Linked DNA regions of Homo sapiens: all the other regions are linked to region 3. The links come from fine-mapping of genetic effects on gene expression. A gene starts in region 3. Each other region holds a variant in brackets. All regions are shown on one strand. Distances are between the middles of the regions. Region 1 overlaps CNTLN (centlein). Region 2 overlaps CNTLN (centlein). Region 3 holds the start of CNTLN (centlein).

The links. PIP is the estimated chance that this variant, and not a neighbour inherited with it, causes the effect.
Region 1: its variant is fine-mapped to the expression of CNTLN in monocytes after interferon gamma (Fairfax 2014, PIP 0.95).
Region 2: its variant is fine-mapped to the expression of CNTLN in pancreas (GTEx, PIP above 0.99).

What each region holds. Positions count from the first base shown.
Region 1 is chr9:17,263,340-17,267,428 of GRCh38, forward strand. All of the region lies in intron 5 of CNTLN (centlein), which reads left to right. Among named protein-coding and RNA genes, the nearest start is that of CNTLN, 130 kb to the left of the region's middle. The variant C/G (reference allele first, on the strand shown) is at 2,153.
Region 2 is chr9:17,228,899-17,232,987 of GRCh38, forward strand. The region is part of intron 3 of CNTLN (centlein); the gene reads left to right. Among named protein-coding and RNA genes, the nearest start is that of CNTLN, 96 kb to the left of the region's middle. The variant T/C (reference allele first, on the strand shown) is at 2,032.
Region 3 is chr9:17,133,301-17,137,389 of GRCh38, forward strand. It overlaps CNTLN (centlein), which reads left to right and starts at 1,740. Exons shown (of 26, transcript NM_017738.4): 1 at 1,740-2,125. The coding sequence starts at 1,766. RefSeq lists an enhancer at 2,021-2,584.

The sequences.
Region 1 (4,089 bases), 130 kb after region 3:
CTTTCATCCATGTCCCTACAAAGGACATGAACTCATCATTTTTTATGGCTGCATAGTATTCCATGGTGTATATGTGCCACATTTTCTTAATCCAGTCTGTCTTTGTTGGGCATTTGGATTGGTTCCAAGTCTTTGCTATTGTGAATAGTACCACAATAAACATATGTGTGCATGTGTCTTTATAGCAGCATGATTTATAATCCTTTGGGTGTATACCCAGTAATGGGATGGCTGGGTCAAATGGTATTTCTAGTTCTAGATCCCTGAGGAATTGCCACACTGACTTCCACAATGGTTGAACTAGTTTACAGTTCCACCAACAGTGTAAAAGTGTTCCTATTTCTGCACATCCTCTCCAGCCCCTGTTGTTTCCTGACTTTTTAATGATCACCATTCTAACTGGTGTGAGATGGTATCTCATTGTGGTTTTGATTTGCATTTCTCTGATGGCCAGTGATGATGAGCATTTTTTCATGTGTTTCTTGGCTGCATAAATGTCTTCTTTTGAGAAGTGTCTGTTCATATCCTTCGCCCACTTTTTGATGGGGTTGTTTGTTTTTTTCTTGTAAATTTGTTTGAGTTCATTGTAGATTCTGGATATTAGCCCTTTGTCAGATGAGTAGGTTGCGAAAATTTTCTCCCATTTTGTAGGTTGCCTGTTCACTCTGATGATAGTTTCTTTTGCTGTGCAGAAGCTCTTTAGTTTAATTAGATCCCATTTGTCAATTTTGGCTTTCGTTGCCATTGCTTTTGTTGTTTCAGACATGAAGTCCTGGCCCATGCCTATGTCCTGAATGGTATTGCCTAGGTTTTCTTCTAGGGTTTTTATGGTTTTAGGTCTAACATTTAAGTCTTTAATCCATCTTGAATTGATTTTTGTATAAGGTGTAAGGAAGGGATCCAGTTTCAGCTTTCTACATATGGCTAGCCAGTTTTCCCAGCACCACTTATTAAATAGGGAATCCTTTCCCCATTGCTTGTTTTTCTCAGGTTTGTCAAAGATCAGATAGTTGTAGATATGCAGCGTTATTTCTGAGGGCTCTGTTCTGTTCCATTGATCTATATCTCTGTTTTGGTACCAGTACCATGCTGTTTTGGTTACTGTAGCCTTGTAGTATAGTTTGAAGTCAGGTATCATGATGCCTTCAGCTTTGTTCTTTTGGCTTAGGATTGACTGGGTGATGTGGGCTCTCTTTTGGTTCCATATGAACTTTAAAGTAGTTTTTTCCAATTCTGTGAAGAAAGTCATTGGTAGCTTGATGGGGATGACATTGAATCTATAAATTACCTTGGGCAGTATGGCCATTTTCACGATATTGATTCTTCCTACCCATGAACATGGAATGTTCTTCCATTTGTATCCTCTTTTATTTCATTGAGCAGTGGTTTGTAGTTCTCCTTGAAGAGGTCCTTCACATCCCTTGTAATTTGGATTCCTAGGTATTTTATTCTCTTTGAAGCGATTGTGAATGTGAGTTCACTCATGATTTGGCTCTCTGTTTGTCTGTTGTTGGTGTATAAGAATGCTTGTGATTTTTGTACATTGATTTTGTATCCTGAGACTTTGCCGAAGTTGCTCATCAGCTTAAGGAGATTTGGGGCTGAGACAATGGGGTTTTCTAGATATAGAATCATGTCATCTGCAAACAGGGACAATTTGACTTCCTCTTTTCCTAATTGAATACCCTTTATTTCCTTCTCCTGCCTAATTGCCCTGGCCAGAACTTCCAACACTATGTTGAATAGGAGTGGTGAGAGAGGGCATCCCTGTCTTGTGCCAGTTTTCAAAGGGAATGCTTCCAGTTTTTGCCCATTCAGTATGATATTGGCTGTGGGTTTGTCATAGATAGCTCTTATTATTTTGAAATACGTCCCATCAATACCTAATTTATTGAGAGTTTTTAGCATGAAGCATTGTTGAATTTTGTCAAAGGCCTTTTCTGCATCTTTTGAGATAATCATGTGGTTTTTGTCTTTAGTTCTGTTTATATGCTGGATTACACTTATTGATTTGCGTATGTTGTAACAGCCTTGCATTCTAGGGATGAAGCCCACTTGATCATGGTGGATAAGCTTTTTGATGTGCTGCTGGATTCGGTTTGCCAGTATTTTATTGAGGATTTTTACATCAATGTTCATCAAGGATATTGGT[C/G]TAAAATTCTCTTTTTTTTGTTGTGTCTCTGCCAGGCTTTGGTTTGAGGATGATGCTGGCCTCATAAAATGAGGGAGGATTCCCTCTTTTTCTATTGATTGGAATAGTTTCAGATGGAGTGGTACCAGCTCCTCTTTGTACCTCTGGTAGAATTCGGCTGTGAATCCATCTGGTCCTGGACTCTTTTTGGTTGGTAAGCTATTGATTATTGCCACAATTTCAGAGCCTGTTATTGGTCTATTCAGAGACTCAACTTCTTCCTGGTTTAGTCTTGGGAGAGTGTATGTGTCGAGGAATTTATCCATTTCTTCTACATTTTCTGGTTTATTTGCTTAGAGGTGTTTGTAGTATTCTTTCATGGTTGTTTGTATTTCTGTGGGATCGGTGGTGATATCCCCTTTATCATTTTTTATTGCATCTATTTGATTCTTCTCTCTTTTTTTCTTTATTATTCTTGCTAGCGGTCTATCAATTTTGTTGATCTTTTCAAAAAACCAGCTCCTGGATTCATTAATTTTTTGAAGGGCTTTTTGTGTTTCTATTTCCTTCAGTTCTGCTCTGATGTTAGTTATTTCTTGCCTTCTGCTAGCTTTTGAATGTGTTTGCTCTTGCTTCTCTAGTTCTTTTAATTGTGAAGTTAGGGTGTCAGTTTTGGATCTTCCTGCTTTCTCTTTTGGGCATTTAGTGCTATAAATTTCCTTCTACACACTGCTTTGAATGTGTTCCAGAGATTCTGGTATGCTGTGTCTTTGTTATCATTGGTTTCAAATAACATCTTTATTTCTGCCTTCATTTCATTATGTACCCAGTAGTCACTCAGGACCAGGTTGTTGAGTTTCCATGTAGTTGAGTGGTTTTGAGTGAGTTTCTTAATCCTGAGTTCTAGTTTGATTGCACTGTGGTCTGAGAGACAGTTTGTTATAATTTCTGTTCTTTTACATTTGCTGAGGAGAGCTTTGCTTCCCAGTATGTGGTCAATTTTGGAATAGGTGTGGTGTGCTGCTGAATAAAATGTATATTCTGTTGATTTGGGGTGGAGAGTTCTGTAGATGTCTATTAAGTCTGCTTGGTGCAGAGCTGAGTTCAATTCCTGGGTATCCTTGTTAACTTTCTGTCTCGTTGATCTGTTTAGTGTTGACGGTGGGATGTTATAGTCTCCCATTATTATTGTGTGGGAGTCTAAGTCTCTTTGTAGGTTACTCAGGACTTGCTTTATGAATCTGGGTGCTCCTGTATTGGGTGCATATATATTTAGGATAGTGAGCTCTTGTTGTTGAATTGATCCCTTTACCATTATGTAATGGCCTTCTTTGTCTCTTTTGATCTTTGTTGGTTTGAAGTCTGTTTTATCAGAGACTAGGATTGCAACCCCTGCCTTTTTTTGTTTTCCATTTGCTTGGTAGATCTTTCTCCATCCCTTTATTTTGAGCCTATGTGTGTCTCTGCACATGAGATGGGTTTCCTGAATACAGCACACTGATGGGTCTTGACTCTTTATCCAATTTGCCAGTCTGTGTCTTTTAATTGGAGCATGTTGCCCATTTACATTTAAAGTTAATGTTGTTATGTGTGAATTTGGGCCTGTCATTATGATGTTAGCTGGTTATTTTGCTCGTTAGTTGATGCAGTTTCTTCCTATCCTTGATGGTCTTTACATTTTGGCATGTTTTTGCAGTGGCTGGTACCGGTTGTTCCTTTCCATGTTTAGTGCTTCCTTCAGGAGCTCTTTTAGGGCAGGCCTGGTGGTGACAAAATCTCTCAGCATTTGTTTGTCTGTAAAGTATTTTATTTCTCCTTCACTTATGAAGGTTAGGTTGGCTGGATATGAAATTCTGGGTTGAAAATTATTTTTTTTAAGAATGTTGAATATAGGCCCCCACTCTCTTCTGGCTTGTAGAGTTTCTGCCGAGAGCTCCGCTGTTCGTCTGATGGGCTTC
Region 2 (4,089 bases), 96 kb after region 3:
TGAAGGTAAGGTTTTGAGCTCCTCTTAGAAAGTTTGTGTTTGAGATGCTGATAGGAATTCCATTTAGAGATTTTTAGCAAACTGTTGGAAGCATGAATCTGATGAAGGAGTTTTGACCTGGAGATGTGGGTATTTAATAGTTTAGTTAGAGGGAAGACTTTAAGCAGTGAGAATTTTGAGAACAAGATATTTACTGATATTTTTAATGAGGAAGGAAAAATTGTAGTGAAAGAGGTGAAAAGACTTTATAGAAGTAAGGAGAGAGTACAATGCAATATCTCATGAATTGAGAAGAGAGAGTTTCAAGAAGCAAAATGTTGTCATTGTCGTAAAATGCTGCAAAAAATGGAGTGGGTTTTTGAAAAAGACATTACATTTAGCAGTCATGAAGTTTTAAAATGAATTTTAGAAAGCAATACAACAGGGATGGCATATGAAATTTTAAGAGATCATTGAATTCTGACAAAGTAATGGAAAGGAATGAAGAAATGTGACATTATGGGGTGGGGAGATAGTGGGATGGATTGATTGATTGACTGATTTGTTTTAAGTAATAGCTCACGCAGTCGTGGGCTGGCAAGTAACTCTGCAGGGCAGCCTGGCAGAATGGAGACCTAGGGAACAGTTTATGTTACATTGCAAATCCTAAGGTAGCCTGGAGGTAGAATTTCTTCCTCCTCTGGGGATCATAGTATTTTCTTGGGGCCTTCAACTGATTGGATGAGGCCAGCCCACATTATGAAGGGTAATCTGCTTTTCTCAAAGTCCATTAATTTAAATGTTAACCACATCTAAAGAATACTTTCACAATAACATCTAGACTGGTGTTAGATAAGAACGTGTGTACCATGGGTAGCCTAGCCAAACTGACATATAAAATTAACCAAATGGGTAAAAACAGCTGGGGTAAATAGGTTTTATGTTTATCTGGCTAGATATTAGGCTGTCTCCACTGTTCGCTGTGGTATGAGTTAGAGGCAGAACTCTGGTATCCGTGCCTTTTATTTGAATTTTTGTAGAGATTTTATAAATATCCTTGATATGCATAATTCAGTTTTCTTAAAAAGAAAAACCTTAGACAAATTAAATTCAATGGAGTTTAATTGAGCTGAAAAAAATTCACGAATTGGGTAACACTCAGGACCAAAAGTGGTTCATAGAGCTCTGCTCCGCAGTGTGGGCTGGGACTGTGTACAGCCAGACAATGGAAGTGACACACAGAAATAGCCAGATTGGTTACAGTTTGGTGTTTGCCTTATTTGGACATGTTTTGGCAATTTGCACTTGTGATTGGCTGAATGCTTGGCTGCTGTGATTGGCTGAGACTCGGCTACTATACAAAAATATACTCTCAAGTAGGGTTGTGTTTACATGTTGTTAGGTTACAGTTAGCTACCTACAGAGGCAATTTAATTTAATAGTTGCTATTTAAACTGCTTTGTTTGGTCAAACCTATTAATTATACAATAGTCCCATTGATGTGGTGGTGGGGTGTTGGGGGAGGAGAGGAAGCGGTCTGTAGTGTTATGTTTGGGTTTTTTTCATGGTGAGCTGTGCTTCTGGACTGTGACCTTCAAAAGTGCTTCTTAGTTTTTTGTTTGTTTGTTTCCCCCCTCCCCTTACCCCCTTAGGAGAGACAGGAAGGCTAGAAGGTGCTAGAGTTGGGTATTTCCCTTTTCCAAGTTGGTTAGTTAGGCTCAGGTAAAACCCCATGAGTCTGGGCTCTGGTAAAATAGTTTTTCTTGATGGCAGGCCTTGGTAAGAAGAAAAGAATACTCTGAGTGTGTTTAAAGATGGTTACTTTCTCCCTCCACATACTGGAAACAGGAAGGAATAATTGTGTGATCTTCCCTGTGACAACATGACAGGGGTCCAGTAGGTTAAACTTATGAAAATGTGTCACCTCTTATTGTTTTATGGTTCCTCTGAGTACTGCTTGCCCCCTTCCCCCAAGCATGACTGAGCCATCCTTGAGTTTTAAACTCTCAGACTTGTCCATATTGATCTTCCAGTAATTCATTAATTACAGAA[T/C]AAGTTTTTCCACCCTGGTGCTGGCTCCTGTGGAAGTTTTTTCTCCTGGGCATCTGTTCCATTAAGTTGTTATTCTCTCTATTTTCATGTCTGTCTCTTCAATTTTGGGAGCGTTGGTTTGCTGGATAGTCTCAATTCTCTGATGGATCTGAAAAGAGTTGTTGATTTTCAGTTTGTTCAGCGTTTTTTCTTATTGTGTAAATGAGAAAGATGACTGCCAAGTTCCTTATATGCTGGACTGGAAACCAGAAGCCCCCTCCATTGAATTGTTGTTGTTCCACTGAAAAATATTAAATAGCTCCTAATGTTCAAGATTTATAGCTATGAGATAGAGTAAGAATTAGAATGACAAATCCTTCAGCTTATTTAACTCTTACTTCTGTATCTAGTGAAATTACTAGAAAGTTACACACACACACAGTTTTTTTTTAGCTGTTTGCAGAAAAACTTTCCTAGGGTGCAATCTAATAATTATTAGTATAAAGAATTGCCTTTTTTTGGGTAAGACTATGTTTTAGCTTTGTCACTGTTATAAAACAATGTTAATACATTTCCCTTCTAGTATTGTGCTTTGATAGCATGACTTATGATAACCTAGTAAATTGTATTTAATTAGATGATAATTGCTCTTTAACATTATATTTCATTTTTTCCTTACCTTCTAGGAAGCTCAGAAGTTTTGTTTCATAATTGCAATTACTTCTTTTATCCCTTCCTTTTTCTCCACTTATCATTGCTTTAGTTATTGTGGTTTAATTACTGCTTTGTTTGTTTTTTGTTAAAAGTTTCATGTCCATTTTGAAAATAGGTCAGTATAAATAATAAATTAACTATGCTCAAGTATTGCCTAATAGAGTTTGGGGTTTGGGCCTTATGCCCCTTCCCTACCCCCCACCCATTTTTATGCCTGCTTCATACTCACTATTATTCTCTTGTTACTCTGTAGACTTCTCTTGACCATTATTTGAATTATTCATTCATTTCATGGCTTATCTGTAATAAATTATTTGTTCCAGACATTCTCTCTCTTGTCATCCCTTATTGCTTTATGGTTCCTCTGAATTCTGTTTGCTGTTTTAATATTAACTCAAGCCAGGCTATTAAGAATTTACCTGCCTCTATTCAGAAAGATTTGTTGAAAAATATTAATAAAGCTTAATTTTAAAATGAACTTTAACTGTATATGTCTGTGCTTTCATTATTTATAGAGGGTATATTTTATTAGGAAAATATGTTGATTTATACAAACTTTTACACTTTTAGAGTTTATCAGTGCTCTTGTGTTGGGAGAGAATCTTTGTCTAACTTATTTTCTTTAATGATTTTGTGATATAAGTAACTATATTATGCAATTTAATATTAAACTAATTATCGGAATATAATAATTTTGGTTAACCAATTTTTTAAATTTTATTATGCTTTTTAATTTACAGATTGAGTCTGTGTTTGTCCTTTTGAATTACTATTATAAGTTCACTCAAATGCCAAAATCTAAATTATTAAATAATTCTCATGAAAGGACTCTCTATTGGTATCATTTATATTGTCAGTGCCTGTTTAGTTTACTTTAATGGGAAAACTCTTTTAAAACTTGTCATTTGGTTCTTCCTAGAGTTTAACTAATTTCAGAATAGACAAGATATGCTCAAATTTTGTCATTTCTCCTTCAAAGGATAGGCTTATGGGTATTTTACAAACAGTTTTAATGCTTATATTATTGAATTTATTATTTAGTGTCAATTTCATCTGTAAACACTTAACAGTCTAGTTTGGGAGATATTATGAGTAGATAGATTATTAGCAACACTCGGTAGTTTGTTGTGTATCAAATGTATAATATAGATAATACAAAAATTTAGAAATGGCAAGAATTACAAAATACTGAGATAGTAAGGGAAGCTTTTATTGAGGAGGTGGAAGTCGAGTCTTAAAGGGGCATAAGACTTAGCTGAGAGTAGAAAAATTGATTGTAAATTGTGGAGGAGCCATTTTTATGCATCTATTTTTATGTTATTTGATTGATGTCAGGCACATTTTGATATGGCCTAATAATTAAAA
Region 3 (4,089 bases):
GAGTCAGGATATTATCCTTTTGGGAGGTCACATATACATATTTATACCACTGCTTTTCAAAAGGATCTTTTTATGATCAGGTGAAATGATGTCCTTTTGAGTGAATGACATACAGCAATTAAAAATGTGCATTAATACTGATTTGGGGCCAAACACGTAACTTATGTGGTTAGACTTCCCAGTCTTAAGTCTAGTGAAATCTCACAGACTATCAAGACCAAATGTTGTATTTCAAGTCACAGGTGTGGAGACAGGGTAGCGATCAAAGTACAGGTTTTCAGAGTTAAGTGGAATTCAGTGAATTCAAAGCCTAGCTTTTCTGATACCAGACATGGCACTTCAGAGAAGTTACAGTAACCTTGCAAGTCTGTTTCCTCACTAGTAAAAATGGAGATATATAATAATCTAATTGAAGGTGACATATGTATTAAGTGAGTTCATATATGAAAAGTGCTTAGCACTGGACTCAGCATATGGTAAATGTTCAGTAGGTTAGCTAGTTCTAAGACAGGCTTATAAACATACTTTTTCTAATGTACTCTTTAATAAGTTTTTGTGAGGAATTCACCTTCAGTTTGAAAGAAGTCCACTTATCTTGGTTGCCTTGGCAGGATTCTAATTGGGAGGGTGTCTTTTGGCATCCTGACTAGATTCTCATGCAGAGATGGTGATATTTTGGTTAAATGAAGTTAACAGTAAAGTGGTCATCTCTCTACTTCTGCTCTCAACCCCCATCTCAGCTTTCCCCAAGTATTCTGGAACCCTTTCTGAAGAAGAGGGCAGTTCTAACTTTCAGGGATGTTCTGGTGCCAGCTCAATATGCATCTCATTAATCTTATCAATAGTAACAAAGTATTTGAAGGGCAAAGAAAGATACGATTACTACCTATTTGAAGTTTATAAAGAAAGCCAGAAGAAAAAGAAAAAAAAGAGAACAAAAGATAAAGTAGGTCTTGTTTCTTCATCCACGCTCCAAATTACTGATTTCAAACTGCTCCAAGGACCCAAACTGTTCAGCAATGTGGGCTACACTTCCTCTGATATCCAGCCAACGCATAAAGAAGCTGACATAAAAACTCAAAGGAAATCATGACTCCTGCAAAACAAAAGACAAAGGGTGTACAAAGGATCATCATTCAAGTTGGAAACCTGCTTGATAGTCCCAGATCAGCACAAGGCTTTCCACATCTCCTTGACATTAGTCAGCTGGATGTCAGCTGTACTAAAGCAGTTTTGCCAAGGGGTGTGAAGAAAACACTTAAGTGTAAAACGTATTCCTTGATCCTCAAGGAGCTTACAACAGGGCTGGGGAGATTAGCCGTGTAACTGACACTCCAGGGCGGTCAATGAAACGTGTCACACGAGTTGGCAGGGGCCTTGAAGGAGAGGGATTTCACAGTTAAGGATCATTTGGGGCTGGGGGCTTGTCAAGGAAGGCTTTAAGAGGTGGGATGTAAGTGGCAGGCAGGGCTTTAGGTGGGCGGGAAATCCAGGCGATCCTGGCCAAGGACTCAGGCACAGGACGCTGGGATGGCCTGCCCGGCGGACCGGCCTTACCCTTTCGGGCCACGGCGCGTGCGTACCCCAAGGCTCGCGCTGGGCGCATTGCCCGCGGGAAGCCGGCCAGGACCAGAGAACACGGGACACCGCGGGCCAAGGCGGGAAAAGCCTCGCGCATGCGCGGTTCGGCGTTCCGGGCTCGCCGGGTTGGGGAAAGGGAGGTGGAGTTTCCAACAGGGAACTTGACCCGTTAGCAGCCGCAGCCATGGCGGCGCGTTCGCCTCCCTCACCGCACCCTTCGCCCCCAGCGCGACAGCTGGGCCCCAGGTCCCCACGTGTTGGGCGGGGAGCTGAAGTACACGCAATGCGCAGCGAGGCCTCGGGTTTTGCCGGCGCAGCGCGGGAGGTGGTCGCGGACGAAAGTGATAAAATCTGGGTGGGTGAAGAAGGGTCAGGGGGCCGGCGAGGGCCTGGGGGGGCAGCTCCGGCTCATGCTCCCCTCCTCAGCGCGCCCATGGGGTCCAGACGGCTAGAGGGCATCTCGGTAGAGGAGGCGATGGTGACCCGGACGCAGCTGCTGGAGGAAGAGCTGAGCAGCCTAAAGGAGGAGTTGGCCCTGTGTCAGGTATCGAGGAGTCTCGCAGTCCCCCTTTCCCCACCACAGCGGGGCCGGGACCCGTGGGGAGGCGCGCCTTTCTCCCTCTGCCTTGGGACCTACCCCGCCCAGCGACGCTCCCTGGCAGATGCACACCCTGCTTCGCTCGCGGCCGGGGGCTGGAGGGACGCGGCTGCGCCCGGCTCCCCAAACCCGGGCCCCTGCCCCTTTCCGAACTGCGGCCAGACAGGCTTCGCCTCCGCGCCCGGGTTTGGTTTTGGTCACTTGGATACTCGCAGTCGCATCCTCTCCGCTTCCCCCCCAAGCCCAAGTTCTTGGTGGTGACGGTAGCTGATACCTGCCGGGGGCCCAGGAGTGACATGCAGTCCACTAGTTGAAATGAACAGGAAAGTGTAAACACTTCGGTTAGAGTAAAATCCATCGATGAAGGAGCCTGTTTTTAAAATTTCAAACCCACACTTGGCTTTGTTTTTACCCAGTCAAACTTAAGTTGTAAACACAGACGAGTAACGTTTAGAAAGTCTCAGAGCCGGGAACTTAACAATAGATGATGCTTGGTACTTGTTTATTAACCAGCTATGGTAATTCCGCGGTCCTTGAGTGAGAAATCACATTTTCATGTGATCTTGCCAGTGAAAAACATTTGCTAAATCAATTGCATTAAAATTACTTTCCTGTTTGTAGAGTTTTTGTAAGGATGGACTTGACTATACTCATGTTCAAAGAGATTGAATTTTCCTTTAGTTTTGCATCCTTACCATCATCTCTTTTGATTTTACCAGAACCTTTAGATAGGGTTGGGAGATTGGATGTGGGAAACTCACTGAACAGTAGATCTTTAAGTCACTCTGTCTTCAACTTAGAAACCAATTAGGAGCTGCTGAACATCAAAGTAACTTTGTGAACAGTATCATCAGTTTAATAAAACAGTTCATGAAATTCATTCTCTGTCGCCCAGGCTGGAGTGCAGTGGTGCAGTCTCAGCTCACTGCAAGCTCCGCCTCCCGGGTTCACGCCATTCTCCAGCCTCAGCCTCCCGAATAGCTGGGACTACAGGTGTCCGCCACCACGCCTGGCTAATTTTTTGTATTTTTAGTAGAGATGGGGTTTCACCGTGTTAGCCAGGACAGTCTCGATCTCCTGACCTCGTGGTCCGCCAGCCTTGGCCTTCCAAAGTGCTGGGATTACAGAAATTCATTCTCTCATAGTTTGTTCTGTTGGATTCTTTTGCCCATTTTATAGGTCCTTGCTGACTGAGTGAAGGGTGTAAAAATGGGACCATCTTCAAATTGAATGTGCCTTTGGTTAAACAAGGTTGGGACATTTAATATGGTGCCCTCTTTTCGTTTTACCATTTTTCTGTTCTTCGTTGGATAAGGAGCAAAGGGATAAATAAATGACAACAATGAATTGAAGCATTTGTCATCTGCAGACCTCACCCTTTGGGGAGTTTTAAGATGTGAACCCATGATAAAGGCCTTTGATACTCTGAGTCCTAATCTAAGACACTCTTTGGCATATTTTCCGCACTCTTTCCTCCCACTTCTGCCTCCCCACATAGTTAGGCCTTTAGCTGGCTAAAGAGCTAAGATACTTTTTTATGACCGACTTGGTTAAGGAAGTCAGTCTATTGGAAACAGCCTGATGAACCTCTTCCCACAAATACTTACATTCTTTAAAAATGTGGCTCCAAACATGGTGTTGGCTTTTGTGACCTCGGACATATATAGACTAGGAAAATGATTGACATACTCTTGGCAAATGTAAGAATACAGAGATGGTCATAATAGTCTAGAATGATGATCTCTTAGATTTTGTAATATTAATACTCTTATATAATTGTAGGCAGTATCCCGCACCATAAAAATCTTAGTCAAATCAGACTCCTGCTCTTCGGGAATCTTGGGGAAAAATAGTAATTGAACTCCCAATTGTTTTGTAAAAAGCATTTAGGTGATTAAATATTCACTTTT